6 separate regions of the Homo sapiens genome follow, and all the other regions are reported to be linked to region 5. The links are microRNA targets in miRTarBase. Many come from high-throughput screens and were not tested one by one. Region 5 holds a microRNA gene; each other region holds the end of a gene's coding sequence. Distances are between the middles of the regions.
The links. Region 5 holds the annotated microRNA hsa-miR-1233-3p (UGAGCCCUGUCCUCCCGCAG, at 2,972-2,991, shown strand). A microRNA usually pairs through its seed, bases 2 to 8, with sites in the 3' UTR of a target mRNA and lowers its output. Matches are read on the target gene's strand: a 7mer-m8 pairs with bases 2 to 8, a 7mer-A1 pairs with bases 2 to 7 and ends in A, and an 8mer does both.

Region 1 (5,002 bases), not on the chromosome of region 5:
TTTACCTACAGGTCAGAGTTGATTATTCATCAGAGAATTCACACTGGAGAGAAACCTTATGAATGCAGTGACTGTGGGAGAGCCTTCACTCAGAAGTCAGCACTCACAGTGCATCAGAGAATTCATACAGGAGAAAAATCGTATATATGCATGAAATGTGGACTGGCCTTCATCCGGAAGGCACACTTGATTACACATCAAATAATTCATACTGGAGAGAAACCTTATAAATGTGGTCACTGTGGGAAATTGTTTACTTCCAAGTCACAACTCCATGTTCATAAACGAATTCACACAGGAGAAAAGCCCTATGTATGCAATAAATGTGGGAAGGCATTCACCAACCGGTCAAATCTCATTACACATCAGAAAACTCATACAGGAGAGAAATCTTATATATGTTCCAAATGTGGAAAGGCCTTCACCCAGAGGTCAGACTTGATTACACATCAGAGAATCCATACTGGGGAGAAGCCTTATGAATGCAATACTTGTGGAAAAGCCTTTACTCAGAAGTCAAATCTTAATATACATCAGAAAATTCACACTGGAGAGAGACAGTATGAATGCCACGAATGTGGGAAAGCCTTCAACCAGAAATCAATACTCATTGTTCATCAGAAAATTCATACAGGAGAGAAACCCTATGTATGCACTGAGTGTGGAAGAGCTTTCATCCGCAAGTCAAACTTTATTACTCATCAAAGAATTCATACTGGAGAGAAGCCTTATGAATGCAGTGACTGTGGGAAGTCCTTTACCTCCAAGTCTCAGCTCCTGGTGCATCAGCCAGTTCACACAGGAGAGAAACCCTATGTGTGTGCCGAGTGTGGGAAAGCCTTTAGTGGCAGGTCAAATCTCAGTAAGCACCAGAAAACTCATACCGGAGAAAAGCCCTACATTTGTTCTGAATGTGGGAAGACCTTTCGACAGAAGTCAGAGTTGATTACACATCACAGAATTCATACTGGAGAGAAACCTTATGAGTGCAGTGACTGTGGGAAGTCTTTCACTAAAAAATCACAGCTCCAAGTGCATCAGCGAATTCACACTGGAGAGAAGCCTTACGTGTGTGCTGAGTGTGGGAAGGCCTTTAGCAACAGGTCCAATTTGAATAAACATCAGACAACACACACTGGAGACAAACCCTACAAGTGTGGCATCTGTGGGAAAGGCTTCGTTCAGAAATCAGTGTTCAGTGTTCATCAGAGCAGCCACGCTTGAGAGAAACAGTGTGAGAAAACCCCCCTGAGGGTTGGGTCTGATTGTACACTGTTGCACGCATGCAGCAGAAAAATATGTATATTATTGTAAATAGAAATGACCACATCAGAATGTCACACATGGCTGTTCTGGAGAGGGCCTCTGAGAAGGCACTGAATGAGGCGAGGGACCCTTCCTACATTGTCACCATCCCCAGTAAACCTTGGGTCATTATTCATACTGACAAGGAACCGAGTCAATTTGGTGAATAGGAAAAGCCTTCTCATGAAAACTACAATAGAATACTGTTACCAAATTCTTCATAAGAAAGATCATATTATGGGAATGATAATCCTGTTTACTGTGGATTAGGTATAGTGCCAACAGTTTGAATGGTAAGACAACATAATATATATGATAGTGATGAATCCTTCTGTGAGTTGTTTGTTCCAGAACACACTGTCTAGTAGAATTGTGGGTATTTTCTTCTTTTGAATCGAACACAGTTGTGCATATCCAATTCCCCATTGAGTATTTCTATCAAGCAAGAGATACTGCAATAAGACAAACTCCCTGTGTATTCAGACACAGACCTCAGAGCGTATGTTGAGTCCCCATTGTCATAGAAAAAGACTTACAGTCCCCTTCATTATCTGCCAGGACTCTCTCTGAGCCCCACAGGTTCTCAGCACATTGTGTTTGACACCCAGCACAGTGTTTTTTCTTTTTCTTTCTTTCTTTCTCTTTCTTTCTTTCTTTCTTTCTTTCTTTCTTTCTTTCTTTCTTTCTTTCTTTCTTTCTTTCCTTCTTTCTTTCTTTTTCTTTCTTTCTCTTTCTTTCTTTCTTTCTTTCTTTCTTTCTTTCTTTCTTTCTTTCTTTCTTTCTTTCTTTTTTTGAGACAGAGTCTTGCTCTGTCGGGCAAGCTAGAGTGCAGTGGCGCTATCTTGGCTCACTGCAACCTCCGTCTCCCGGGCTCAAGCAATTCTCCTGCCTCAGCCTCCTGAGTAGCTGGGATTGCGTGTGCCACCACGCCCAGCTAATTTTTGTATGTTTAGTAGAAACGGGGGTTTCACCATGCTGGCCAGGCTGGTCTCGAACTCCTGACCTCATGATCCGCCCGCCTCGGCCTCCCAAAGTCCTGGGATTACGGACGTGAGCCACTGCGCCCGGCCCAGCACAGTGTTTTGTACACTCCCACCACCCTCAAGAAAGCCTTTGAGGTTAGGATTTTCAGGTCATCTGGGAGAACTTAAATTCTTCCTTCTGCTATTACAATTCTTCTCACTCAGTTGCCTGCCTCTTTTTTTTTTTTAATTTACTTGTGACTGAGTTGAAGCCCAGCATTTTACTTTCCTTAATGATCTGACTTTCATAAGTTGATAAGTCATGAAATCATTATCTTACATTATATGAGATATGAGATAAATCATAAATCATATGAAATTGATAACTCATATGAAAACCAACCCCACCATATGTTCACTGTCTACTTGTGTCCATCTTCGTCCCACGCACCCCACAAGGACCTTCCCCGCCATGTGCCTCAAACATCAGTTCCTGACTCAGGGCCTTTGTATTTGCAGTGCCCGTTGCAAAGAGCACAATTCTTTATTTTATCTGTGGCTTGTCCGTCATGTCTTTTTTTCCATGACACCTCCACACAGGCCTTCCCTGCCTGCCTGGTTTAAAATTCCAGCCCCTTACCCTTCCTCCTTTATTCTTCTCCCTAGCAATTTCCACCATGCTGCCTGGTGTATTTTCCTCATTTCTCTGTGGCTTCTACACTAGAAAATATTTCCCTTTTGTTCACCACTATGAGTCTAGACCCATGACTGCCATACAGCAGGCATTCCATAAATGCACCTGTGGAGAGTTGACCCATGCTTGTTGCGTGACTTCTGTCTGATTTTTTTCTGTGTTGCAGCATAAGAAGCGCTAATAGGGAGAACCAACTTGGCTAAAACACACCAGGCTTTTTCACCTCTAGTCTGTACCTGGGCTGTATCCCTTCTCAACCCTAAAGCTAAAAAGTCATTGTGAACCTTTTGGTCTGATGCTAAAGAAGGGAAAACAGGTACAGGAAATCCCATGTGGATGCTTGCTTCCAGGATTTCCTGCCATGATTCCAGAATCCCACAGCTCCAACATGATTGCAAAAGACTCCCTGCTCATTTTTCCTCAGCATGCACAGCGCTGTCCTGTCTCAGTTGCAACTCGACAGAGCCGCATTTACTCCAGAACCCAATCCACACACCTGCTCATCCTGCCCCGAGAGGAGTGCCTGAAGCCAATAGCAGGGAACTAGAGCAGACTTGGGTGGATCTTCATTGGATATTAGGTATCTTGCCCTAGATAGGCAGCAGTGGCCTTACAGATGCTGACAGATGATCTGATTAGATGCACAGTTGCTGGGTGGCGTCTGGGGCCAGTCTATTGGCAGTTCTGGGAGTGGGAACTATTTGGGCTCTGCAAAGATGGTTTCACCTTTAAGAAGGGCAGTATGGGGAGGTGAAGATGGGGCCCAAAGGATAGAACATAGTCAAAGAAGCAGGGCCACAATGCCCCTTTAATTCCCAAGCCCTAGTTGGGCAGTGCTTGGTGACACATCCCATTACCTCACCTTAGATCAATGTCTACTGAGCCATCATTAGCTCTGCTTCCTCACTTCTTCACAGTATCTGATGGCCCATCACATGCTGCTCAACATCTTAGACCAATGTCTGCTCACCCATTACCTCCCTTCACCTCATCCAGCACTGTATCTGAAGCTTCACTATTCTTCCTTCAGTTTTGGATATTTTGTGATACAACATTATCCCCAACTTAGGACAATGTCAGCTGACTCTCAGGAGGGTGCCTGGAGATCACCTCTTCCTTCCTAACATACCCTAGAACAAGGTCTGGTCCCCTTCATTATTCCCATTTTACCTTACTCCTAAGTGTATCACTCCTCATGAATTCCAGGAAATATGGAGGAAAACACATTTCACTGTACATGACTTTCAATAATTTCTCCTTTATATTTATTGTAACGTGATATTTTAGTGCTGACATATATATGTATATGTATGCCCATTTATATAAAAGACTAGTTTTTAGAGAAATTTTAGGTTCACAGCAAAATGGGGCAGAAGGTACAGAGATTTCCCATATATCCCCTACCCTCACATATACACAGCCTCCCCCATCATCAACATCCCCCTTCAGAGTGGTACATTTGTTACAATTGATGAAACTACATTGACACTATCGGCCAAAGTCCATGGTTTAATTAGGGTTCAGTCTTGATGTGCATTCTGTGGGTTGAGACAAATGAATAATGACATGTATGCATTATTACAGAAGGATAAAGAGCCGTTTCACTGTCCCAATAATCCTCTGTGTTTCGCCTACTCCTCTAAACTCCTGGCTATTTTCTTTTGTCTCCATAATTTTGCCTCTGAACCATAAAGTATGCAGCCTTTTCAGATTGATTTGTTTCACTTAGTAATGTGGATTTAAGTTTCTTCCATGTCTTTTCGTAGCTTGCTAGCTCTTTTTTTTTTTTTTTTCTCATTGAATAATATGCTATTGTCTGGAAGTACCATGACTTATTTATCCATTCACCTACTGAAGGACACCTTAATTGCTTCCAAGTTTTGTTGATTATGAATAAAGATGCTATAAACACCTGTGTGCAGGTTTTTGTGTGAACATGACTGTAATATTTTAAGGTCGTATTTATTGAGGTATAATTTACATACAGTAATATTCACCCTTTTTAGTGTGGAATTCTCAAAGTTTTGACAATTACATCATG
Region 2 (4,954 bases), not on the chromosome of region 5:
AAATGTACATTACTAAGTGAAGGAAGTCAATCTGAAAAGGCTACATATACAGTATGAATCTAACTACACAACATTCTGGAAAAGGCAAAACTATGGAAGCAGTAAAAGGATCAATGGTTGCTAGGGGTTGAGGGGAGGGAAGAATGAACAGGTGCAGCAGAGGACTGTTCGGGCAGGGAAACTCTTCTGTATGATACTATAATGGTAGATGCATGTCACTGAAAATACATCCAAACCTATAGAATGTACCACCCCAAGAGTGAACCCTAATGTAAACTATGGACTCTGGTGATAGTGACGTGTCAATGAAGGTCCATCAGTTGTAACAAATGACCACTCTGGTGCCCAGTGTTGGTGATAAGGGAGGCTGTGCATGTGTGGGGACAGGGAGTAAATGAGAACTCTCTGTACCCTCTGCTCAGTTTTACTGTGAACCTAAAATTGCACTAAACAAATAAAGTATATTTAAGAAAACGGTCACGGCCACTTGAATTGCAGTAATAAACATACAGAGACTTGGTTAACGGGTCACAGAGTATTGAATCTGACAAACACGGTTAACTGCATTACAATAAAATATAGGAATAATTGTTTAAAAGAAAAGATTGAGGCCAGGCATGGTGGCTCACACCTGTAATCTCAGCACTTTGGGAGGCCAATATGGGTGGATCACCTGAGGTAAGGAGTTCGAGACCAGCCTGGCCAACACGGTGAAACCCTGTCTCTACTAAAGATACAAAAATTAGCCAGGCATGGTGGCACATGCTTGTAATCCCAGCTACTTGGGAGGCTGAGGCGGTAGAATTGCTTGAACCCAGGAGGCAGAGGTTGCAGTGAGCCAAGATTGCACCACTGCACTCCAGCCTGAGCAACAGAGTGAGACTCCATCTCAAAAAAAAAAAAAAAAGAAAAAGAAAAGAAAACATTGAGCCCTGGGGGGATGCTGGACAGTGCGCAGCACCACAGGGCTAGAAAAAAACACCCTGCCCTAAAGGAGACAAGATGATCCAATCCCATCCCAGGGCTCACATACATGCAGTGTATGTGACCCAATCAGTGACCCACATACATGCAGGCCAGTTCCTGCCTTAAAACCTGTGACTTCATGCCAGTCAGTCGTGGTGGCTCACGCCTATAATCCCGGTACTTTGAGAGGCCACGGCGGGCGGATCACAAGGTCAGGAGATGTAGACCAACCTGGCTAACACGGTGAAACCCCGTCTCTACTAAAAATAGAAAAACTTAACCGGACGTGGTGGCAGGCACCTGTAGTCCCAGCTACTTGGGAGGCTGAGACAGAATGGCGTGAATCTGGGAGGCGGAGCTTGCAATGAGCCGAGATTGCGCCACTGCACTCCAGCCTGGGCAACAAAGAGAAACTCCGCCTAAAACAAAACAAAACAAAACCTGTGACTTCTTCCTCCTTCCAGGTAAGCTCTCTTCTCTGGGCTCTACTGCCCTCCTGTCATCATCTGTTGTCCCAGGAGTGTTTGTGGAGGTACACTGGTAACACTACTAGCTGCTCAAAGTCTCTAGTTCTCTCAAGAAGCTGAGGGATATGTGGTTTGGCCAGGGTTCCTGGGGCAGGGAGAAGAAAGGGAAGAGGCTTGGAGAGGGAGGCAAGTTTGCTTCCATAGCCATCTCACTTTTAGTTCTAAATCCTGGCTCCTTCACTTGGCCTTCGTCACTGAAGTGCCCCTTCTTCCTTTAGGTGTTTAAAGCACTTGTGAGCAGCAATTCAGGGATGCTCAAACCATTGCTGCTTTGCAGTCATCTGCAGTCACCTGGCCTTAGCTCTGTCTCTCCTGGAACTTTGGGGTCATTCTGTATCCTGCATTGCACCCAGCAGAGCATCAGGCCCAAGGGAGGCTCGATAAATATATGGTGAGCATAAATTGTGGTGGAAACCCAGCCCAAGAGGCTGGGGCAGAAGTGTGAAGTGTGGGAAGGGTGCTGGGCAAGCTCATCTGGTTAAGAAAACCCTGGTCCAGCTGGACAGGAACTGGAGCTCAGCAGCCCCACGGTGTGGTCTCAGTCTCTACTATTCTCTTGTCCATCAGTTTGCCCCACCTCATGAGAACCAGGCCACCAGCCACGCCTAACCTCAACTTCCCACAGCTCCCAGGGGAGCAGAGTCTCAACCTCTTCCTTAAGTTCCGTTTGAAAAAAAGGCAGAAAGAATTCAGATCAGTAAGCTTGAGCCTTTCCATAGAGGACAAAATGGCCTGTTCCCTGAGAACACAGCCAATCCACCAGGACCGCCAGCCTGGGGTGAGGGGTGGGCCAGGAGAACAGAATGTATAGGGAAGGGGTGTCCCTACTAGAGGCCTGTGGGACATTTCCACTGGTGGGACTTGGCCACACACACAGAGTAACATCCCTTTAGGTCTTCATGGTCAAGGTGGTTTGTGGCACCATAAAATGGAAAAGGTGGCCTCATCCCAATTATGTTGACAGTGGTGGTAGAAGGCCTGGCATGGCTGGTGGCCTTGGCCATGGACTTGGAAGGGCTAATCATCAGTGCTGCCTCCAAAGTGGGTGTAGTTGGGTCCATCCTGGATGCTAAAGGGCAACTGATGGATGGCAAGCATGAGAGCTGAGCACCTAGGAGGCTCGTTCTGCCAAGAAAGCCTCACCTTCCTTGGTAACAGGAAGATCATGAAAATCAATGTAAACTGAAGTGGTTTTTCCCCCACCCCCCGCCCCCAACTGAGTAAGTTTAAACCTTCACTAGAAGCTGCTGATTGAAGACCTCCTAACCACCGACTTTTGGTACCCCACCCATATCCCTTTGGGACTCAACATGGTGCAGGCAGGCCCAGCTCCACATTGCCTGAAGGCTTTTTCTCAGGGGCAGAAAGAGCCAGGGAATGTATGCACCCTGGGATCAACCTGTAACCACTGACTAAAGGCAGTAGGCAAACACCCACAGCCGCCACCTCTCAGGTGAGGTAATTCAGAGGCAACTGCTGTGTGCAGCCCCCTAGAGGCACTCAGCTCCCTACCACAGTCCTAATAGGCTTGACAAGCATTCACGAGGACTGTGTCCCCTTCCTGCTTCCCGGGATCACCGCCCACCCCACATAAACCACTCGCACCAATTCTCAGCCCAAGCACTGCTTCTCAGACGGCTCTGCCACAGCCACCTGCCACCTGTGACATATACTTTGGTGGAGAAATGTGTGCCACCATCCAAAGGAGGCCTCTAAGGAGACAGAGGTGAGGTGGGGATGAGAGATGGAGGCATCCCAAGAAGCCTCCTAGGGGGATCCTTGACCACGAAAGCTCAGACACGCAGCTTTGGGGCCATCCAGAGAGGCACTCACTCATAGGAGCAGGATGCACGCATCAAACTCACAGAAAGAGGGTAAAATCACACAGCCAGTGCTTTTAATTCAAAACGAAAAATATGTCATCCAGGCTAGACTGCTCACATTCATCTGACAGCAACTTCTCTCCCTGCAGATGAGGGAAGGCTGTGATGACTTTATCTCGAGCCTGCCTGGTGGGAACGGGCTTGGCACAAAAGGAGCTGCAGAATCCTGCTGCTGATTGGCAGATGCATTTCTGAACTCAGCGGGGGCTGGACACTGAGCAGGACCTTGTTGATAATACTGCCTAAGTGGGCACAAAGCCAGGGGCTGTGGCCTGCCAGCATGCAGGCACAGCTCCTCCACCCTCAGGGGAGTCTGAGACCCCTTTTGTGTTTCGATGACTGTGGGATTTTTTTTTTTTTTTTGAGATGGAGTCTCACTCTGTTGCCCAGGCTGGAGTGAAGTGGCGCACTCTCGGCTCACTGCAAACTCTGCCTCCCAGGTTCAAGTGATTCCCATGACTCAGCCCCCTGAGCAGCTAGGATTACAGGTGGGCGCCATACACCCAGCTAATTTTTGTATTTTTAGTAGAGATGGGGTTTCACTATGTTGGCCAGGCTGGTCTTGAACTCCCGACCTGAGGTGGTCCAACCACCTCAGCCCCGCAAAGTGCTGGGATTACAGGCGTGAGCCACCGCGCCTGGCCTTGACTGTGGGTTTGGAAGAAGAGCGGGGTGAGCTCCAGGCAGCTCCTCACCCTAGCACTATCGGCTGGCAGGGATGGAGGAAGGTGGGTTCAAGGACAAGCGTGGCTGCCGCACGGCAGCGGTCTAAGTAACACAGCAGCTCTAGGCTCAGGAAGTTCTGTGGTTCCACTAACCTGAGGACAGGCAGGACCTCCTCCACCCTCTGCCCAGCCCCCTTTCTGCAGGCTTGTGTCACCCACTTGTCCTGGTATAGCAGCACATCAGAGCTGCTGGGTAGGAGGGAGATGCCAAGCTTCATCTGGCTGTGTGTCTACCCTCTGCCTGCCCTCAGAAGCACCATCCCAACGAGGAATCAGCGGGGCCAAGCGGCACTGAATTCCTTCTCCAGGCCTTGGACAAACTGGTCGTTGAGGAAAAGCAGCTGACCATGTGGCAGGAAGCGGGTGAGGATGCCCTCAATGCGGTCAGCCCGCAGCAGAAGGCTGGTGCTGGGCGCCAGCAGCCGGAGGTGGTCAAGGAGGAGGCGTGTCAGCAGCCGGAGCGTGCCCTCAGCCAGTAGCAGGTTCTCATGGGCATCCAGCACCAGGGCAAAGCCTAACGAGAGCACGCCCAGCCACACCACCGTCCGTGGCTCCTGGAAAGGGTTCTCTGCTGCCAGGCGGAAAGCCCCACGTGGGGCCTCGTGCAGCGGCACTTGCTCATCTGAGGATTGCGGCTGCAGGTCCATGGGGGGCCGGCCAGATGCCTGCTGCTGCAGCCGACACATTGACTCTACCTGCCTGGGGAGAGTGGGCAGGTCAGGCTGGTGGGCTCACACACCAACTCTGTCATCCTCATGATCAACCCTGGTGCTGGGAGCTACCATCATCCCCATATCTCAAGTGAGAAAACTGAGGCCTAGAGAGACTAAGTGATCTGCCCAGGGCCACAGAA
Region 3 (4,912 bases), 22 Mb from region 5:
CTGTAAACTCTTCAGCATCTGGTATATGGTAAGCATTCAGTAAATATTTACTGTATTAGGCAGTCACTCCTTTGAATATTTTTTCCCTTGGTAATGAAGACACTTTCCTGAAAATATTTGTTTGCCTCCTTGTAATTTTAAAGGAATAATGACAGTAAAAAATACATAGATATGTGTACAGACATAAAATATATATTTTAAAAATATATATTATCTAGAATCTTTTGAACTTAGTGTCATAAATAGTTCATCAATTTTATCTAATTCATTGCATGAGTAGTTTTATTTGAAAACTTCGTATAAGATTAATGTACTTTGTGATAACAAAATTTGATCTGCATTTCCAGCAACGTGAACTAGAAGAGTGGCAGTTGCAGCAAAGGCGGCAAGGATTTATTAATGCAATTATTGAAGAAGAAAGGCTAAAACTTCTTAAAGAGCATGCTACAAACTTACTAGGCTATCTCCCTAAAGTAAGTGAGATTTATCTCAAGTTGTAATCTTCATGACCTGTAATAGTGAAAAAAACATGGTATTTGGATTTTAGAGTGCCTTGGTTTTGCTCACTTCTTGCTCGGTTATGAAGCAGCAATGGGATCCTCCTGTCCAGGCACTGAACCTCTCTGGGCCCATTTCAGTATATCTAAAATGATTGGTCTTAGCACATTATTAGATGTATGAGCTTGATTTACTGAATTTGTACCTTATTTATCGCCCAGGCTGGAGTGCAGTGGCAAGATGTCAGCTTACTGCAACCTCTGCCTCCCGGTGATTCTCCTGCTTCAGCCTCCTGAGTAGCTGGGATTACAGGCGTTTGCCACCACACCCAGCTAATTTTTGTATTTTTGGTAAGGACAGGATTTTGCTATGTTGGCCAGGCTGGTCTTGAACTCTTGGCCTCAGGTGATCCATCTGCCTCAGCCTCCCCAAGTGCTGGGTGGGCCACCACACCTGGCCTGAGTTTGTATTTTAGAGTTTCTTTTCTCCCCTTTTAGTGTAGGAAATCTAAAGCTACCCTAGAACAACTGTAGTACTTACATGCCAAAGATGAGAATGTGTATGAAAACATTGTCACTGGTAACACCAGTAATAGGCACATGGTTGAACTGAGCTTGAGACTACCCTAGAACTGTAGTACTTACATGCCAAAGATGAGAATGTGTATGAAAACATTGTCACTGGTAACACCAGTAATAGGCACATGGTTGAACTGAGCTTGAGACAGATCTGCTCTACAGTAGGAAGTTATAACTAGTTAAACTTGATTTTTAAAATTCCAGAAGATAGTGAATTTTAATGTATACCTGAGACACACTGTGACTTCAAATAAAATAGTAACTGGCTGGGCATGGCAACTCATGCCTATAATCCCAGCACTTTGGGAGGCTGAGGCAGGAGGATCACCTGAGCCCAGGAGTTCAAGACCAGCCTGGGAAACATGGGGAGATGCCATTGCTACAAAAAATAAAAAGTTAACTGGATGTGGTGATGCACGCCTGTAGTCCCAGATACTCTGGAGGCTGAGGTTGGAAGATTGCTTGAGCCTGGAAAGTTGAAGCTGCAGTGACCCATGATCTTGCCACTGCACTCCAGCCTGGGCAACAGAGTGAGACCCCGTCTTGTCTTAAAAAAGTAATAACAGTTTCATAGGCCACATAAACATCTAGACTCATATAAATAAGATCGCCATCTTTCAGCTATAGAAATGCCATTTCATATTTTATTCAGTAGAATCAAGTGCATATTTATTTTATTATATTCACTCTGGTGCTAAGGAAGGAAAAAGATATATAGGTAATTACTGCCTGGCCACAGGACTTGATAGTCTAATTGGTTAGAAAGGATTAAGGAATACAAAATGATGTATTAATGATAAAATCCATATGTAATTAATACATTTCATAAACTAAATTATAAATTGTAGGAATGTCTTTCTTTGGGATTTGATATTTTTGTAGAGGAAATAATTGTGGAGGCAGCAGGAGGGATTAATAAACTTGATATCCAAAAATGACCTTTATCCTTTAGGTCCTAATGGTGCCAAATGACTTCAGTTATCCCTAAAATTCTTTATTCTTTAGATTGCAATTTAAGTAAATATTTAATTTTGTTTTAAAGAGCCTTTTGCAGTATACTGTAGGGGAAAAGAAAAATAGAACAGTGAAGAATTCCAAAGGGTTTGCTTAAATGGCTTAACTCCAAACCTGGATTCTTTTCTGCAAGATTGACTGTTTGCTGATTAGCCATAGAACTGAGGCATGAAGAACTAATCCCATGCATGAATCTACTGAAGCTCACCATTATATCATATTATAGAGCTATTTAAAGAAAAGGGTAGGGTACAGTATAGATGAAGTGCCTTCCTATCTAGGTAATCCAAGCAGTAGAACTTGTAGAAGAGCTCAGATTCCTATGAAAAGCTCCTACACTAGAGCTGATAAATCAGAAAATTGGGTCAGTCTAGGAATATTCAATATATATGTAAAGTCTTATTTTTTGAAAAGTATTGATTTTTTTAAAGTTTCATTAATCTGTTGAATAGATTTCATTACCTTGGAGATAACTTTACTAATCTTATGTCTGTCAGTCTTAAAAGCATTTAGTGAAATATTCTGGTATTCAAAAGTAACCCACAAAGTATTTTTCTCGTAGGGAGTATTTAAAAAAGAGGATGATATTGATCTGCTTGGTGAAGAGTTCAGGAAAGTATATCAACAAAGGAGTGAAATTTGTGAAGAGAAATGATATCATCAAAATTGGGTAAAGCATAGATTTTTTGCATGTTACCACTAGATGTCAGCATAACTTTTGTTTTACAGTTCAGTGGCATTAGGTATCCATTGTCTGTTTGGATTTTGTAAATCATCACTGAATTTCATAACTTGTAAACAATTATCAGATACAAATTAATTTTAATCAAGCTGTTATTTTTGTACTGATAATTTCAAAATCCGATTTCTACAACACTACAGAGCACTGTTTGCATCCCCATCCTCAAGACAGTATATTTACCTTGACTAATACAGAACTCTACCCCAAAGTGAACTGCCTTCTGTCTGTGTTTACGAACTTTACTTACTTGATTTAGCCAGGGAAATAAATATTTGGAATTTTCTTTTAAAGCATCTTTTTTGGTCTACTGTAAGGGAGGAGAATTATAAATGAAAAGAGTCAAGAATTTTATTATCTGATGTGCTTAATTGTCACGCTAAGAACTTAAAAAACAACTCAAAAAGAGCTAATAGCTAATCTCCTAAATCTAAAAAGGGAATTCTTTGAAATTATTTTGCTTTCATAATCAAATATATTACTTATGAAGAATAAAAATAATTCAAACCACTACAATAAGTAAAATGGGTATCCATCACATACTGTCATAGAGACTAACTGAAGTAGATCACTTATGAATTTCCCCATTCAAGTGCTTTCATAAATTCCTCCTCAGTGAAAGATAGCATCTTGGCAGCTTCAATATGCATCTGTTAAAAAAAAAATCAATATTGTCTGATTTAGTATTAAGAGTAGGCCACCAAACAACAGGAAGTTTGTAAAAATGTGTGGATAATATATTGTCAGAATATAAGTTCTGTTGTAGGAATGTATACTCTTAATTCCAATAAGCATGATATTTGAAATGGTATTGTCCAACAGTAGTACTGAACCAACTTACTTTTAAGATAATAATAATTCTATAATATTTTAAATACCTGACCTTTGCAAAGAAGGAAAGTGTCAGAACTATGAATTTTTAGAGAAAGCAGCAATAGTGGTTTGGAAGTGATGTTCGCTCTAAGGTTTGAAGAGGCAAACAGTCCCCTAATAGTCATTCTTTAATTTGGTACTTTCTGTAGTTGAGAAGTACCTATACTGTATTTTCCAGTCCCATTTTCTACACTAACTTACTTATGTGAAAATATCCACTTGCTTAGATGACACATATATCTCACTATAAATGTTAGATTTCATATGATTTCATATGTATGATGCATTTTATATGAAGTTCAGTGCGTAAAGATGTCAAAAACATACCTAAAGTGAAAAATGCTAAATTTTTTAGTAAGAAAGTTACAAATAATATGATGATTTAACTTTAATGATAGACTCACCTTTTGCCTTTTTAAAACATCAATTAATTTTAACTGTTTCTTGAACCCTATCATTAATTCTCCTTTTTGTTTTTCTAGCTTCTTGTTTTCTGATTTTAACACTTCAATTTTTTTGTGTTCTTCATTTGCTATGTCCTACACAAGGAAAAAAAAGTGCCATATATTTTTAATATACAGCCTCAATGGAAAGAATTATAGACTATCATCACAACAGTAATAAAAAGTACTTTCTTAAACTGAAATATAAAATTTTTGTAGATAAAAATTGCTTTCCATTACCGAATTACTGGAATTTGATAGCTTTTAGTCATGCTCAGGTATTTCCCATTTTTAAAAAATGTTTTTAAAATAACTCAGTTCTAATTCCAGTAATGGCAAAGTAGCTTGTATTGAACCAACATAAACTCTGGATTTATGAATTTTCAAAAATAATATATTTGAAAACATTTTAAAAACGTTTAAAAAGTATATTTGAAGGTGTAGATGAGTAATCAATAATAAGTAGAAACTGGAAGCGATATGATCCTTGAAAGAGCAGAAATACTGGTTGAGATCCACATTCAACTAGCTTCTTCTAAAAGCACTTTCCAGTTTGTGGGTTCACAGAGGTAAGAACTCAAGCAAAAAGTAGTAGTCTTATTGGACTGAGGAGTCAGAGAGCAGGGCTGCCAAGGTGGTACAAAATTCTAGAAAAACAGAGCCCTCAAAACATGCATACGTATTTCCCTCAAATGCTTGGCAGACATCTAAATACCATTTAGAGGGTGAGACTCCTAGGTACCTGTGAAAGGAAATGGCTGTGGCCT
Region 4 (5,002 bases), not on the chromosome of region 5:
ATGCCTGTAATTCCAGCACTTAGGGAGGCCAAGGCAGGTGGATAACATGAAGTCAGGAGTTCAAGTCCGGGCTGACCAACATGCAGAAACCCCATCTCTACTAAAAATATAAAATTAGCCAGGTGTGGTGGCGCATGCCTATAATCCCAGCAACTAGGGAGGCTGAGGCAGGAGGATCGCTTGAACCTGGGAGGCGGAGGTTGCAGTGAGCAGAGATCGTGCCATTGCACTCCAGCCTGGGCAACAAGAGTGAAACTCTGTCTCAAAAAAAAAAAAAATTGATGAAGCATCTGGGCGCAGTGGTTCACGCCTGTAATCCCAGCACTTTGGGAGGCCAAGGCGGGTGGATCACCTGAGGTTGGGAGTTCGAGACCAGCCTGGCCAACATGGTGAAACCCTGTCTCTACTGAAAATACAAAAGTTAGCCTGGTGTGGTGGCACACACCTGTAGTCCCATCTTCTTGGGAGGCTGAGGCGGGTGGATCACGAGGTCAGAAGATCGAGACCATCCTGGCTAACATGGTGAAACCCCATCTCTACTAAAAATACAAAAAATTATCTGGGCGTGGTGGCGTGCGCCTGTAGTCCCAGCTACTCAGGAGGTTGAGGCAGGAGAATCGCTTGAACCCAGGAGGCAGAGGTTGCAGTGAGCCGAGATTGCGCCACTGCACTCCAGCCTGGGTGACAGAGCAAGACTCCACCTCAAAGTAATAATAATAAGCCTCTGACGGACCAGGCACGGTGGCTCATGCCTGTAATCCCAGCACTTTGGGAGGCCGAGGCAGGCAGAGTACCTCAGTTCGGGAGTTCGAGACCAGCCTGGCCAACATGGTGAAACACTGAAAATACAAAAGTTAGCCTGGTGTGGTGACACACACCTGTAGTCCCAGCTTCTTGGGAGGCTGAGGCAGGAGAATCGTTTGAACCCAGGAGGCAGAGATTGCAGTGAGACGAAATCGCCCCACTGCACTCCAGCCTGGGCGACAGAGCAAGACTCTGTCTCAAAAAAAAAGAAAGAAAATTGATGAAGGAGACCAGGTACAGTGGCTCACACCTGTAATCCCAGCACTTTGGGAGGCTGAGGCAGGAGGATTGATTGAGGCCAGGAGTGTGAGACCAGCCTGGGCAACATAGTGAGACCCTGTCTCTGCAAATAATTTAAAAGTTAGCTTTGTGAAGTGCACCTGTAGTCCCAGCTACTTGGGAAGCTGAGGTGGGAGGATCACTTGAGCCCAGGAGGTCGACATTGCAGTGAGGTGTGATTGCATCACTGCACTCCAGCCTGGGCAACAGAGCGAGACCCTGTATCTAAGGAAAAAAAAAAAAAAACGATGAAGGAATGAAAAGATACCCTAAAGCAAGTAATTTTCCTCTCCTGGCCCCAGCTTTCTTATCTGTGAAATGGGGATGATTGTGCCAACCTCACCACGTCACAAGGATGAATAAGGATGTTTAAAAAGAAGAGGCAGGTCATGTGCAACAACATGGATGGAACTGGAATTATAAGTGAAAAAAGCCAGGCACAGAAAGACAAACTTTTTACATTCTCACTTACTTATGGGAGCTAACAATTAAAACAATTGAACTCATGGAGATAGAGTAGAATGATGGTGACCAGAGGCTGGGAAGGGTAGTGGTGGGGGGAAGTGGGTATGGCTAATGAGTACAAAAACATAGTTTTTATTTTTATTTTATTTTTATTTATTTGTTTTTTGAGATGGAGTCTCGCTCTATCGCCCAGGCTGGAGTGCGGTGGCACGGTGTCAGCTCGCTGCAGCCTCTGCCTCCCAGGTTCCAGTGATTCTCCTGCCTCAGACTCCGCGGTAGCTGGGATTACAGGTACATGCCACCATGTCCAGCTAATTTTTGTGTTTTTAGTAGAGACAGGGTTTCACCAATGTTGGCCAGGCTGGTCTCGAACTCCTGACTTCAGGTGATCCGCCCACCTCGGCACTCAGAGTGCTGGGATTACAGGCGTGAGCCACCACATCCAGCCAAAAATGCAGTTAAATAGAATGAATAAGATTTAACATTTGATAGCACAACAGGGTGACTACAGTCAACAGTAATTTATTGTACATTTAGAAATAAAAACGTATAACTGGATTGTTTGTAATACAAATAAAATATAAATGTCTGAGGTAATGGATATTCCCCACCCCCCACAAAATAAAACAGGTGAATTTTTATGGGTTTAAAAAAAAAAAGAGGCAGGACCAAGTGCACAGGAAGACCCCTCAGCCCCCTCTCCATGGGGAGGAAGCTAAGAAACTCATTCTGAAAACCTTCTAAGAACCCTAGGAGGGAGGGATTATCAGTCTCATGTTACTGACTGAGGAGGAAACCAAGGCTCAAGGAGGCCAAGTAACTAGCTCAAGGTCACAAAAGAGAGTTAAGTGACTATGCTTTTTTCTTTTTTTATGAGACGGAGTGTTGCTCTGCCACCCAAGTTAGAGGGCTGGAGTGCAGTGGCGGGATCGTGGCTCGCTGCAACCTCTGCCTCCTGGGCTCAAGCAATTCTCATGCTTCAGCCTCCTAAGTGCTGGGATTACAGGCATGAGCCACCACACCCAGCTAATTTTTGTATTTTTAGTATAGACAGGGTTTCGCCGTGTTGGCCATACTGGTCTCGAACTCCCAACCTCAAGTGAACTGCCTGCCTAGGCCTCCGAAAGTGCTGGGATTACAGGCGTGAGCCACTGCACCCAGCAAAGTGGCTGTGCTTTTTGCTACAGCACAATGATACCCACTAAGCCCTACACCTGCTGAGATTCGGCCTAACATAAACAGTGTCTCTTCCATGAAGCCTTCCCTAATTGCTCCCAGGACATTCCCTGCCTAGCAGTTCCCATCATAGGTTAGGTTACCAGGAGGCAGATTCTGAGATGGAGATGAGTGTGCAGATGTTTATTAGGGGATATTCTTGAAATGGATACCTGTTTGGGGAAGAAAAGGAAGCAGGATTGGGCAAGGGGATAACTTGGCTATGATGTCACAACAGTGTCCTCAATGAAGCCCACAGAGACTGATAAAGTTGGTTTTGACTTTCAGAGTTGTCCAGAGCTGGGGCAAGAGGGAGTCCTTTAAGGCCCCCCAGGAGATGAACTTTGGATACAAGCTGCCCTGAAGGGAGGGCCTTTCCCAGAGAGTGGGGCAAGCTGAAGTCCATCATCCAGTGGCACTCCAGCAGCTGGGGAGAGGGTTGATGGGTTCCCCAGCCAGAAAGGGGGATCTTGGTGGCTCATCACAGTGGCCACTGTGTGCCCAACATAGTTGCTACACATTCATGTTCATCCCAGCCTCCAACATCCATTTTTCAGCCCCTGGGCCTGGTCGGGGGGGCATTGGCCAGCAACCCTGGGTTTGACGTCACATATTAATCCCATGCCCAGAATCATTTTAGCCTGAGGACATAAGAAGCCTCCAAGCCAAGCTCCCCCTGGAATTCCCCGCACCTGCCTTTGCCCATGCATCAGCTTCCTGACGCTGGCTTCTCAGTGTCTGAGCCCAGGAATGCTGCCAGAGTGGCCACATCGCAGCCAAGAAAAAGGGAGTGGGAATGAGAGCTTTTGTCATTCAATTCACAGCGCGGCAGGCTCTGGGTGAGCACATCCTGTCCACTGTCTCATTTGTGGTCACCACCTCCCTTCAAGGTGGGATCTTTTATGAGCCCCATCGATAGATAGGGACACTGAGGCTCAAGGACAGGAAGTTGCACATCTGGTCTCTCAGGCCTTTCTTTTCTTTTCTTTTTTTTTTTTGAAACAGAGTCTCACTCTGTTGCCCAGGCTGGAGTGCAGTGGCGCAGTCTTGGCTCACTGCAATCTCTGCCTCCCAGGTTCAAGCAATTCTCCTGCCTTAGCCTCTGGAGTAACTGGGATTACAGGCATGCACCACCACGCCTGGCTAATTTTTGTATTTTTAGTAGAGACAGGGTTTCACCATGTTGGCCAGGCTGGTCTCGAACCCCTGACCTCAGGTGATCCACTGTCCTTGGCCTCCAAAAATGCTAGGATTACAGGCGTGAGCCACCATGCCTGGCCATCAGAACTTTCTTTTCTGTAGAAAGCCTCGACTCCAAAATCCAGGAAGCATGACTGTGTCAGGATACTGTTTATATGAACCCTTCTGTCATTTGTCCTCCAGAGAGATATTAACACTCCCCATCCCACCAGGTGGGCTAAGGCTGGGACTGCTTTAACCCTTTCTCTCCTAGAGTCAACACTGGCATGGGCCTGAGTGCTGCTTCCTGCTGGGGGACCTGGGGATTTGGGTCTTGTGGATGAGCCGGACACCCCCCCAGCCCTCTTCTAGCTTGATGTCCCCCTGCTGCAGGGCCTGCTGGATAGCATCAGCGAGGGTGTCAAAGGCCAGGTCCACATTGCAGTTGTTTTTAACCGAGGTCTCCACGAAGGCCATGCCCAGGGAGGCAGCTAGCTCCTCGGCCTCCTGGGCTGAGACACAGCGGGTGCTCTGCAGGTCACTCTTGTGGCCAACCAGCAGGAAGATGACCTTGTCCGGGCCCTGAGTGGCCATGACCTCCTGGTGCCAGTCTTGGATGTGTTCAAAGGACTTCCTGTTTGTCACATCAAAGACCAGCAGGACACCCACCACATTCCGGTAAAAGGACCTGGTGATGCACCTGGGGAGGCAGGGAGGTGGAAAGGTAAGCTGGGAGAGGCTGATGCCTCCATGACACCCCCAGAGGCAGGACCTCCTCCCCCTGGGATCCACAGAATGCCTCACACCCCAACAGGGCTCACTTCACACGGCCCCGTGGTTCTCTGCCTCGGTGTCTGTGTCTCTCCTAACAGTCTGGGTGCTGGCCGGGTGCGGTGGCTCACGCCTGTAATCCCAGCACTTTGGGAGGCCGAGGCGGGTGGATGTGGATCACGAGATCAGGAGATCCAGACCATCCTGACTAACACGGTGAAACCCCGTGTCTCTACTGAAAATACAAAAAAATTAGCCGGGCGTGGTGGCGGGCGCCTGTAGTCCCAGC
Region 5 (5,002 bases):
AAGCCGGATGGGGTGAGTCCAGTCACCTGCCCTGTCCCCTGGGAGCCCGGCTTCACAGATGGAGGAGTGAGCCTAAAGGTCCCTTCTGCAGGATGGAGTGTCCTGCCCAGAAGGCAGCATGGCCATTTCTCACTGCTTTTGTGTATGGTTGTTAGAGGCAGCCTGAGGCTGAGTCAGCTGCTGTGGGTGAGTCGGGGGGCGCGGTGGGGAGCGAGCACTGGATGCAGAGCTTGGAGGCCAAGTGCCTGCCCTGCCCTTACCTGGCTGTGGTCTTGGCCAAGTCCTAGGTGGGGTGTGGGGTATTGGGTACTTGTACTGTGAAGGTACAGAAGGGTACCTTTAGTATGTTCCCATTTCTGTAGAGAGAGGAAACGTGTGTGTGTGTGTGTGTGTGTGTACATAGTATGATAATATACATAAAACATGTCTGCAAGTGTTCGTAAACAACTCAGGAGAGAGCAGCAGGGTGGCTGGGAGATACTTCCCTTTGATACCTTCCGAGTTTTGGACTATGTGAATGTATCATCTTTTCAAAAAGTGAACAAAAGATTAATTTTCCCCTTCCTAACCGTGCCCCCACCCCCAGCAGAAAAATGGGCTTAGAGAATCTGATAGACCTGGGTGTTCAAATCCTAGCTCTGCCTAAGTGATCTTAGGCAAGCACTTAACCTCAAACACTCCATGTTTTTTCATCTACCCAAGAGAGGGCATCATAGTAACTGTCTCCTCTGGTGGTTGCGAGGATTAAATGGGATTGCTAGCAAGGTACCTGCTGAAGCACTCCATAAAGGTTCAAACAGTGGGAGTAATAACAATAGCAATATTATCTGATCTCTCTCCTTGTCCCTTCCAACTTCACTGAGTTTTTTTCAAAACCAGACCACGGGCTTGGAAATGCCTTGATCTTTACTGACCGAGTTGTATATTGAGCCTAGCCCTAGCCCTTTTAAGGGGCACTGTGTGGAATGGCCCAGGCTCCCCAGATCGAAACTTCTCACTCTTCACCATCCAGTTCTCGAGCCGCAGTAAAGCACTTCTCAAGCGGCAGTTAGAGCAGTCCATACGGGAGCAGATACTGCTGAAAGGACACGTGACACAGGTGAGGTTTTGCAGAGGGAGGGATGTGGAAGGAAGATGACCCCAGGTGGCCAGGAGCAGGTGAGGACCAGTGACGGCCCTTCCTAACTTGTGTGGCCATTCTTGCAGTTGAAGGAGTCGCTTAAAGAAGTCCAGCTGGAGAGAGATCAATATGCTGAACAAATAAAAGGAGAGAGGGCCCAGTGGCAGCAGAGGATGAGGAAAATGTCGCAGGAGGTGAGATCTGACCCTTCAGCCTCCCGCCCCACCCCCCCCCCACCAACAACTTAAGATAGGTCACTGGATCTTTCTGGGCCTCTTTAAAATGGGAATAGTGCAGCCAGAGGTGGTCCTGGGTCTGGGCTTTGTGGAGGTGGGGGCAGAGAGGGAGATGGGAGCCTGTCCAGCCACCAGCCCCTCTCTCCAGGGCCCTTTCCCCCTGTGCTTTGGGCAGGTTTGCACATTGAAGGAGGAGAAGAAGCATGATACGCATCGGGTAGAGGAGCTGGAGAGGAGCTTGTCCAGACTCAAAAACCAGATGGGTAAGATGGGGCTGGCATGACCTGGGAGCAGGACTGGCATCAGAGGGCTGTGGGGGTGGCTTAGAGTGCCCCAGGGAGGTGGGTGGATGGCAGGGCTTTGAGGCAGAGGGAAAGAGGTCTGTGCCAGGAGACAAGTCTTGTCATCTCCCTGAGCCTCAGTGTCCCCATGAGCAAAGAGGGCCCGTTGTCAGCCACCCGCAGTGCTCTCTATCTGAAAGTGGTTTGGAAGACTGGCTACCATCCGGGTGCGAGGGATCGTTAGCAGTGAAGCCAAGTTTGGGAGCCTGAGAGGAGCTGTGCGCCAACAGGAGGGTGTTTTGTTGTTTTTTCTGTTTTGATTTTTGTTTTGAGAATCCAGAGGCCCTTATGATCTGCTTCCTTTCTCAGCTGAGCCACTGCCCCCGGATGCCCCAGCAGTGTCCTCTGAGGTGGAGCTGCAAGACCTGAGGAAGGAGCTGGAGAGAGTGGCAGGAGAGCTCCAGGCTCAGGTGGAAAACAATCAGTGCATCAGTCTCCTGAACCGTGGGCAAAAGGAGAGGCTTCGCGAGCAGGAGGAGAGGCTTCAGGAGCAGCAGGAGAGGCTTCGGGAACGGGAGAAGAGGCTTCAGCAGCTGGCCGAGCCACAGAGCGACTTGGAGGAGCTGGTGGGTTGCCCCACCTGGGGAGCCTGCCCTCCTCCCTAGCCCTCCAGGCCTTTGTTTCCCCACCTGTAAAATGGGGCAGTGTAGCCCTCACATGAAATATTACTTCCAAAGGCACCTGTGAGCCAGAGCTTTGCTCTGGTGGCTGTGGGAGAGAGGAGAGTATTTTTCTAACTTGGCTCCACCCTTCCCGGTGCCATGGGAGGCAGACACCAAGTTCTGGGGTCTCCAGCTGCAGTGGGTGGCTGCTGATTGCTTCTCTCTGTCCAGAAGCACGAGAACAAGAGCGCACTGCAGTTGGAGCAGCAAGTAAAGGAGCTGCAGGAGAAGCTGGGCCAGGTGATGGAGACGCTCACCTCGGCCGAGAAGGAGCCAGAGGCAGCAGTCCCAGCCTCAGGGACTGGGGGCGAGTCTGTGAGTGGGGAGACCCTCCGGGCCCTGCAGGAAGTCATGGAGAAGCTGGAGGGGAGTGAGTCCTAGCATGGGCCAAGAAGGGCAGGGCTGGGGCAGGTCGCTGCTGAGATGTGACCCCATTATTTTGGCTCCAGAGCGGCCTTATGGACCTCCTGGAGGAGAAGGCGGACCTGAGGGAGCATGTGGAGAAACTGGAACTTGGATTCATCCAGTACCGGAGAGAGAGATGCCATCAGTGAGTGGGAGGCCAGGGCACGGCAGGGGGAGCTGCAGGGCTATGGGAGGGGCCCCAGCGTCTGAGCCCTGTCCTCCCGCAGGAAAGTACATCGCCTTCTAACAGAGCCAGGGGACAGTGCCAAAGATGCGTCACCGGGAGGAGGCCATCATCAGGCTGGCCCAGGACAAGGAGGAGAGGAAGGTAGGGTGTGCAACATCCCTGTGGGGGTGGGGGTGGGGTGGGGGTGTGGGTGGGGTGGGCATGAGGGTGGGCGCCAGCAGCGGCCTGACAGCTGAGCACCCGTCCCTTCAGGTGAAGCTGCTGGAGCTGCAGGAGATGGTGTTGCGGCTTGTGGCAGCTACAGCGAGGGGCACGGCAAATTCCTGGCCGCTGCCCGGAACCCTGCTGCTGAACCCAGTCCAGGAGCCCCAGCCCCCCAGGAGCTCGGGGCTGCCGACAAGCATGGTGGTGAGTAGAGCCCCCAGGCGGGGTGAGCAGGCAGGAGCGGGGGGCGGCTAGCACTCCACTCAGATCCCCGCCTCTCTCTCTCCAAAGATCTTTGTGAGGCGAGCCTCACCAACAGCGTGGAGCCTGCACAAGGAGAAGCCAGGGAGGGTTCTTCCCAGGACAACCCTACTGCACAGCCAGTCCTGCAGCTCCTTGGTGAGATGCAGGACCACCAGGAGCACCCAGGCTTGGGCAGCAACTGCTGTGTGCCATGCTTTTGCTGGGCTTGGCTGCCGAGAAGAAGGAGATAAACACCACCATCATCAAAGAGCTGCTCAAGAAATTTTTAAAAACGAAACAAAGTTATGGGGTTAATCTCCTACACAATTCATTTACTTCATTTGAATGTTAGAGCTACTCATGATTATTTGTGTTTCTAATTTATAGTTTAAGTTTATTTGTAAAAAGTTAAAAGAGAGTGGGTCTCTGTGCCTCTCACTGATGTTCACTCTGGCATCCTTTAGCATTTTTCTTTTTTCATTTCATAATTGTAGGTCATTAGCATGCATATCGAGTTTGCCCTTACGTGGTGGGAGTTCAAACACACAAAGACCCACTCTTTGCACAAAACTGTTCTCGCTGGTTTGGAATAGGCTCCCGTGCTTTTTTAATGTTATTGCAGCATGGATGTTCATTACAGAATTCAGATAAAATTTGCTAATGTTCTGCTATGATGTTTGATCTCATCTTAATCACAGTGAGCTCTTCCATAGCTCAATATGCGGTTTGCCCTCAAGTGTGCACTGTTTATTACTTTGTAATATGCCACTATGAGTACTGACACTTAGAGCTGTTTAAAGGCCGAGAACTGGAAACAGCCTTTCCTCCATTTTCTGTGTATTGGTGATGGGAGTGATAACCTTTTGGGGGAGCTTTCTAAATCTCGCAGAAGAGGAAAGTGGCCTGCTCTGGCAGGTATGTGCAGGATACAGTGTGTTTCATCTGTTCCGGTGCCAAGAATGAGCACTGTACTGTGGCAGTTCCCTTTGGATTTGTATGTGCTCTGGGCTCATGAAGATATTGCATCGTGAGCTGCAGCAGTTGCACTCTTTTTCAGTGACCTAAAAATGGCTTATTTCCGAGGAATGAAAGGCTGCCATCGTTGGCTGTGGATGTGGAAAACCTTTCCTAGCTTAGAGCATTTGTATCTACAATACATTTTAAAGTCAGAGTTCGTGTTCCCTGTTTTAATCACATGACTACCTGTCCCAGTACACGAAAGGGCGCTGGTTGGCATTCTTCTTAATGTATTTAGTAAAGATCATAAGACATCCTTTAAGAGTTTAAATGTCTCTGAAACAGGCATACAGGCTCTAGTCAAGAATGAATTAGAGTGAAGGAAAGCTGTGTGACACCTGGCATTCCTCTCTGTTCATGGAGCTTCTTTGAGGCTTGAAGTTTGATTTTACTATCTAGACCTCTCTGGCTAATACCTATTCTTCAACCACCTCGGTTACTCTGACATAGGAATTTACTTCTTTTCCTTGAGTGGAAAACACTTTAGAAAATAATAACAAACATTATTATAAACTAATATATGTGAGAGTACTTAGTTGAAACAAAAAGGAATTTTAGTAGACAGTATTATATTATCTTTGAAAATC
Region 6 (5,002 bases), not on the chromosome of region 5:
GTCACCTTGGAGATAGGGCCTCGCTCCCACATGCCCACAGGGAATGGGAACTGGCATTGCCTCCAGGAAGAAACCTCCAGGGCCACCAGGACCAGGGGACCTGCTTCCAAAGCCTGGCTGGGCTTCAACTTCTGAGACCCTGAACCAGCTATGTAACTTCCTGGAGCTTCCTCTGCTCAACCAGATGATAATTTGCTCCCTCAGAGACAGTCATGGGCCAGAAGAGAGAGATTGTGACCTCGAAGGGGCTTTGTTTCACATATAAAGTAGCATTAGCATTTTAGGATTCCAGCATTTTAAAAGCCAGAGAAATCGGTAATTTATTTTTCTCTGTGGCTATTTCTTTCTCTCTGCCAACTGCCGAGTGCCACCCCATCCCCGGGTAACCAGTATTACCGTGCTGCTCTCTAAACAAAACTCCTTTCAAAAGACAATGTTCAATTAGCTGGGCCACAGTTTCTGAACACTAAATTCAAAGAGTGGCAGCCTTTTCCCAATATATAATGGGAACGTCAAAGTCAGTTTTTTAGGACTACTTCTAATAACTGTGGACTGGGTAATTTGGACCAAATTCCCAGTTCAGGACAACTTAAAAAGCTGCTCAAAATTTGCGTGTGTGTGTGGGGCGGGGGAGGACATTTTGAACAGCTTTTAAAGTTATATATATATATATTTAATAAATATATGTACGTATATATATATATTTAATAAATATATGTACGTATATATATATATTTAAGTCTAATTGAGAGTATTGGGCAGGAAACAAAGCAGTGAAGAATTACAAGGCCAAGATCTGGGAAAAGAAGGCAACTCAGAGACATATGCATGGCATCTGGGACTACGTTTTCTGTAGGGGGTCTGCTGATTCTAGAAGACACTGCAAAGCCCACCAACAGGAAGGCTACCTGGCAAATGTTTCATGCTTTGGGTTGGAGCCCCAGTGGGCTTCACCCTATGAATATGAATGAAACAGAAGTAGGTCAGCCCTTAAAGTGACTCAAATCCTCTCATCCCCTACAAGTAGATGAAAGAGATCTGGCTCACTGCATCCCCAGCCACCTGCCAGATGTAAACATAATCCTCATAGAGGAAGATAACTCCATCCTAGACCTGAAATTACTTGTACTCAATTAAAACATTGCCAAGTATGGGAGGAGACAGGACAAAACTAACAAAAAACAAGAGAAACAACAGGCACTAGAAACAGACTCATGGAGGCTCCATATAAGGGACTAACTGAACTTTAAAATAACTATGCTTAATATGTTCAAATATATAAAAGATAAAATAGGTAATTTTGAAAGAGAACTGAAAATATTTTAAAAATGGTTTCTATTCCATTTGTAATGCCATCAATTTTATTTTTGAAATGCAAGGGTGCTACTTCCCCCAGGTAGGTCAACAGATGAGTAACAAGCAAAAAAAAAACCTCTAGGAAAAGCAAAAAGAGGCAGTCATGCTACATTCAAGCATGCTCATCTGACAGTGATAATAATACATTGTGTATGCACCATTCTAATTCCCAGTAGAAAACTTGTTGCTGGTTTATAAGATGCAGTTAAACATAGACACTTCCAGCCTGGGCAACATGGCAAAACCCCGTCTCTACAAAAAATACAAAAATTAGCCAGGCATAGTGGCACACACCTGTAGTCCCAGCTACTCGGGAGGCTGAGGCATGAGAATCGCTTGAGCCCAGGAGGTGGAGGTTGCAGTGAGCCAAGACTGCACCACTACACTCCAGCCTGGGTGACAGAGCGAGACCCTGTCTCAAAACAAACAAACAAACAAAAACAAACAACACAGACACTCCCTGAAACCCAGCAGACCACAATCTTAAAGGAATTTCTGCCTTTGAATAGAGGCCTGCCTCCCTCTTCCCTCGTACATGCCCGGATGCTAGCTCTACCCCCGGCCCAGAGCAGTCATGGCAAACAACAACAACGACAATAATAATAGGCAGCTTCCATCCACTGAGCATTTGTTTTGTGCCAGGCCACTGCTAAGGGCTTTCCACAAATTATCACATTTGATTTTCACAACCCTTTGAGGAGGCTGTGACTATTCTCCCCATCTCATAAATGGAGAAGCTGAGCGAACAAGCATCACAGCCAGGCTGTGAGTCCAGGTCTGCCTGCTCCTGACAGCAGGCTCCCAGGCTGGGACCCACTCCCTACCTGCAGATTGCTGGAATAATCCCTGGATGCCTGCAGCCAGAGGTGACCTTAGAACTCTCCTCTCCATAAACACTCATTAAACACCAACTATGTACAGGGTCCCAGCCTAGGAAACCTGGTTTTAAGGACCCAGAACCAAGTCTCAGGGAAGTGAGAACACTTTAATGGATCTGAGGTCTGTCCATCTCTTCTCTCTCCTCTTCCTCATTTCTGGAACGCAGTGTCCAGCACTCAGGGCTGACACAGGGATGGGCTGGGGATGACCCTAGGCCACATGCGCAGGATAAAAGGGGCCGTGCAAAATCCTGTTCTGGCCACCAGATCACTCCTAAGAAAGTTGGGTGGGGGCTGTGGAAGATGCTTCCTTCTGAAGAGGTAAGGGCAAGCCCCCACTGTGGCCCAGGTCCCAGGTCCCTTCCTTGGGAGCCAGCACTCAGAGAGAAGCTAAGTGCTGGTACCCCCATTTCTAACTTGGGTGCAGGCAGGGAGGCTCGGCCTTCAGACAGGCCTCCCTCACCCCACTGGACACCAATAAATCCTGGATGAGATCTGCAGAGGGCCCAAGGCCCTGGGGCAGTGGAGGGCTCAGAGGCCATGAGGCAGGGCCTGCAGCCAGCCCAGACCTAGGCCATGGTGGCCCCTGCCTGATTAGTGGCGTTACCTGAGTGGTTTGGTTGGGCAGGGTGGTCTCTGGGGCCAGCAAGGTAGCAGTGGAGATATGGTGAAGAGGGGACTAAGGGAGGAAGCAAAGGGCCAGGAAGGGCATAAGAGGGAAGTGGGGGCCAGGGGGGAGGCCAGATGAGGACGGTGTGGGGGGCGAGGGGCTCAGAGAGGGGCAGGGGGAGGCTTGGCAGGGGGAGGCTTGGCAGGGGGAAGACACACGGGAAGGGGAGTGGGGTTGGACGAGGCCTCTGTCCCACCCCAGGGTCCAGGCTCCAGCAGGTGGAGAACAGGCTCTTCCTGTGAGGATGCCACCAGCATGGGGGTAAGGGGTGACACCTGGAGGGACTTGCTGGCTCTGCAGCTGCACAGAAGTCCCATGTGATTCTGAGCGTGAATGATGGGGGTCGTGAGCAGAAAGGGGTGGAAAGGAGCAGGCAAGGTGGGGCCAGGTAAGCCGGAACTGGGGACAGTCCAGGCCTGGATGCCAGCCTGGGCTCTGGGGCAAGAGCTACCGAAGTCCTGTGGCCCAGGCTAAATCAAAGGGGAGGACAGGCAGCCTCAGGGTCACCTCACCCTGTCAGGGATTAAGAAGGAAACGGGTGAAGGGGAGGGAGGGGAGAACAGGGCTGTCAGCCCCACTGCTGGATGGGCCACACCCAATACCCAGACTCCACCATGTCCCCAAGCCTTCCTGCCCTCCTAGGCCCTGGAAACCCCAGACCCCAGCCCCTCCCCACCCCACTCCCTTAATCCCTGGCAGGGAGCAATTAAGCGAGTTGGGGAAAACTCACCCACAAGGCCCTACAGCTTCAGGGAGGTAACCCGGGGGATGTGGAAGAGCTGAGTCTCCTCAGAGCTGGTGGAGCTGCAGTGTCAAAGACAGAGAGTGAGCATACCCTTCCCCCCAGACCCTCAGCCCTGACACAGGGACAAACCCAGAGCCCTGAGGGTTTCTCCTCGGAAGCCCTGTGGGGGATGGGAAGGGTCCCACGAAGCTGCGCCCAAATGGATGCAGCAAGAAGGGTAAGGGGCAGACATACGGGAGAACTTCCTGGCTTTGGAGCTCCTCAGAGTGTGGCTCTTCAGGGCTCGCTCATGAGCCTCCTCTGCCTGGGAGGTCTCAGGAGGGGCTGTGACAGGGGACCCTGGCGGCTGAAAGGACACCTCCCTGGCCCCTGATGCTGCCTGCAGCCCTGGCAGCCCCTCACCTGAGGCGTTTCCGGATAGGACGGAAGTATTTGGAGGTCTTGACGGCAAAGATGATGCTGGGGATCAGGAAGAAGGTGCACCATGCCAGGCAGAACCAGAAGGCATTCTGCAACAAGGCGTGAGGTCGGCTCACCAACCCACGTGGCACCCAGCCTCACCCAGCTGCCTTGTCATCAGAGCCGGGGCAGAGGCCATGCCTGGCTTCACACCCTGCTCACCCGGCCCTCCCTGGAGAGCAGGAAGGCTCCGGGACTTGGTGAACAAGCCCCGATGAGCTGGGGCACTCACCCAGGGGTCAGCCATCATGTCACACAGGATCACACGGCTGTTGTCCAGGGCTCCGGAGAGGGGCTGGCAGGTGGCAATGCGCTGAGTCACCTGTGGCGCCAACATGAGGCAGGTGATGCAGAGACACCTGGACCCACAGGCGCACACCCATATTCAATTCAGGGAGAGTGGTTGACAGGGACACAGAAAGGCCTGGGGACACCATTGGGGCCACCGCACACTTGTATACACATGCAGAGAGGCAGGTACAGACAGATGCGGACATACTCTACAGACTCCTCGCTGGGCCCCTCCCCTTTCCATCTGTTCACCAGCCTGGATTAAGGCCTACTATGACCCAGCACTGTGTGTCAAGCCACAGTGCTTGAAAGCACACATGTGTGTGCATGCATACACACACACTCACACACACATAGACACACAGACACACTCAGGGTAAAACCAGACCACTGTTGCCCTAGTGTGGGCATCCAGACAGCTTGCAGAGGCTGTGTTCAGCAAGGGTCTGCATCGGGAGGTGGGCTTTGAGGATTGGCCTTGGACAAGCTGGGGAAAGGGCCAGCCCAGGGAAGGACCTGCAGGCCAGGTGTGATGAAACATTTTGGAGAACGCCAACCCTGCTCACACTCAGCTCAGGGAAGCGCTGCAGCAGAGGTGGGGTG

Region 1: the mRNA of ZNF585B is a reported target of hsa-miR-1233-3p. Seed matches in the 3' UTR shown: 7mer-A1 at 2,174-2,180.
Region 2: the mRNA of AP5S1 is a reported target of hsa-miR-1233-3p. Seed matches in the 3' UTR shown: 8mer at 927-934.
Region 3: the mRNA of TEX9 is a reported target of hsa-miR-1233-3p. The part of its 3' UTR that is shown has no 7-base or 8-base seed match.
Region 4: miRTarBase lists RAB42 as a target of hsa-miR-1233-3p. Seed matches in the 3' UTR shown: 7mer-A1 at 3,667-3,673 and 7mer-A1 at 3,503-3,509.
Region 6: the mRNA of PROM2 is a reported target of hsa-miR-1233-3p. Seed matches in the 3' UTR shown: 7mer-A1 at 1,694-1,700.

The regions. Positions count from the first base shown.
Region 1 is chr19:37,181,449-37,186,450 of GRCh38, reverse strand. It overlaps ZNF585B (zinc finger protein 585B), which reads left to right. Exons shown (of 5, transcript NM_152279.4): 5 at 1-4,872. The coding sequence ends at 1,224. Among named protein-coding and RNA genes, the nearest start is that of ZNF585A, 11 kb to the right of the region's middle.
Region 2 is chr20:3,823,717-3,828,670 of GRCh38, reverse strand. It overlaps AP5S1 (adaptor related protein complex 5 subunit sigma 1), which reads right to left. Exons shown (of 3, transcript NM_018347.3): 3 at 1-4,800. The coding sequence ends at 4,374. Among named protein-coding and RNA genes, the nearest start is that of AP5S1, 5.6 kb to the right of the region's middle.
Region 3 is chr15:56,426,934-56,431,845 of GRCh38, reverse strand. It overlaps TEX9 (testis expressed 9), which reads right to left. Exons shown (of 12, transcript NM_001395496.1): 11 at 4,107-4,241; 12 at 1,692-3,479. The coding sequence ends at 3,402. It overlaps MNS1 (meiosis specific nuclear structural 1), which reads left to right. Exons shown (of 10, transcript NM_018365.4): 9 at 348-473; 10 at 2,653-3,122. The coding sequence ends at 2,745. Among named protein-coding and RNA genes, the nearest start is that of MNS1, 36 kb to the left of the region's middle.
Region 4 is chr1:28,593,334-28,598,335 of GRCh38, reverse strand. It overlaps RAB42 (RAB42, member RAS oncogene family), which reads right to left. Exons shown (of 2, transcript NM_001193532.3): 2 at 2,887-4,642. The coding sequence ends at 4,219. Among named protein-coding and RNA genes, the nearest start is that of RAB42, 3.6 kb to the right of the region's middle. RefSeq lists an enhancer at 4,343-5,002.
Region 5 is chr15:34,526,279-34,531,280 of GRCh38, reverse strand. MIR1233-2 (microRNA 1233-2) reads left to right here and starts at 2,910; the gene lies at 2,910-2,991. It overlaps GOLGA8B (golgin A8 family member B), which reads left to right. Exons shown (of 24, transcript NM_001023567.5): 15 at 1-12; 16 at 1,013-1,099; 17 at 1,207-1,314; 18 at 1,532-1,619; 19 at 2,007-2,263; 20 at 2,531-2,674; 21 at 2,809-2,909; 22 at 2,992-3,092; 23 at 3,204-3,359; 24 at 3,447-5,002. The coding sequence ends at 3,649.
Region 6 is chr2:95,287,639-95,292,640 of GRCh38, reverse strand. It overlaps PROM2 (prominin 2), which reads right to left. Exons shown (of 24, transcript NM_001165978.3): 21 at 4,341-4,430; 22 at 4,052-4,158; 23 at 3,635-3,708; 24 at 1,339-3,417. The coding sequence ends at 3,645. Among named protein-coding and RNA genes, the nearest start is that of KCNIP3, 7.2 kb to the left of the region's middle.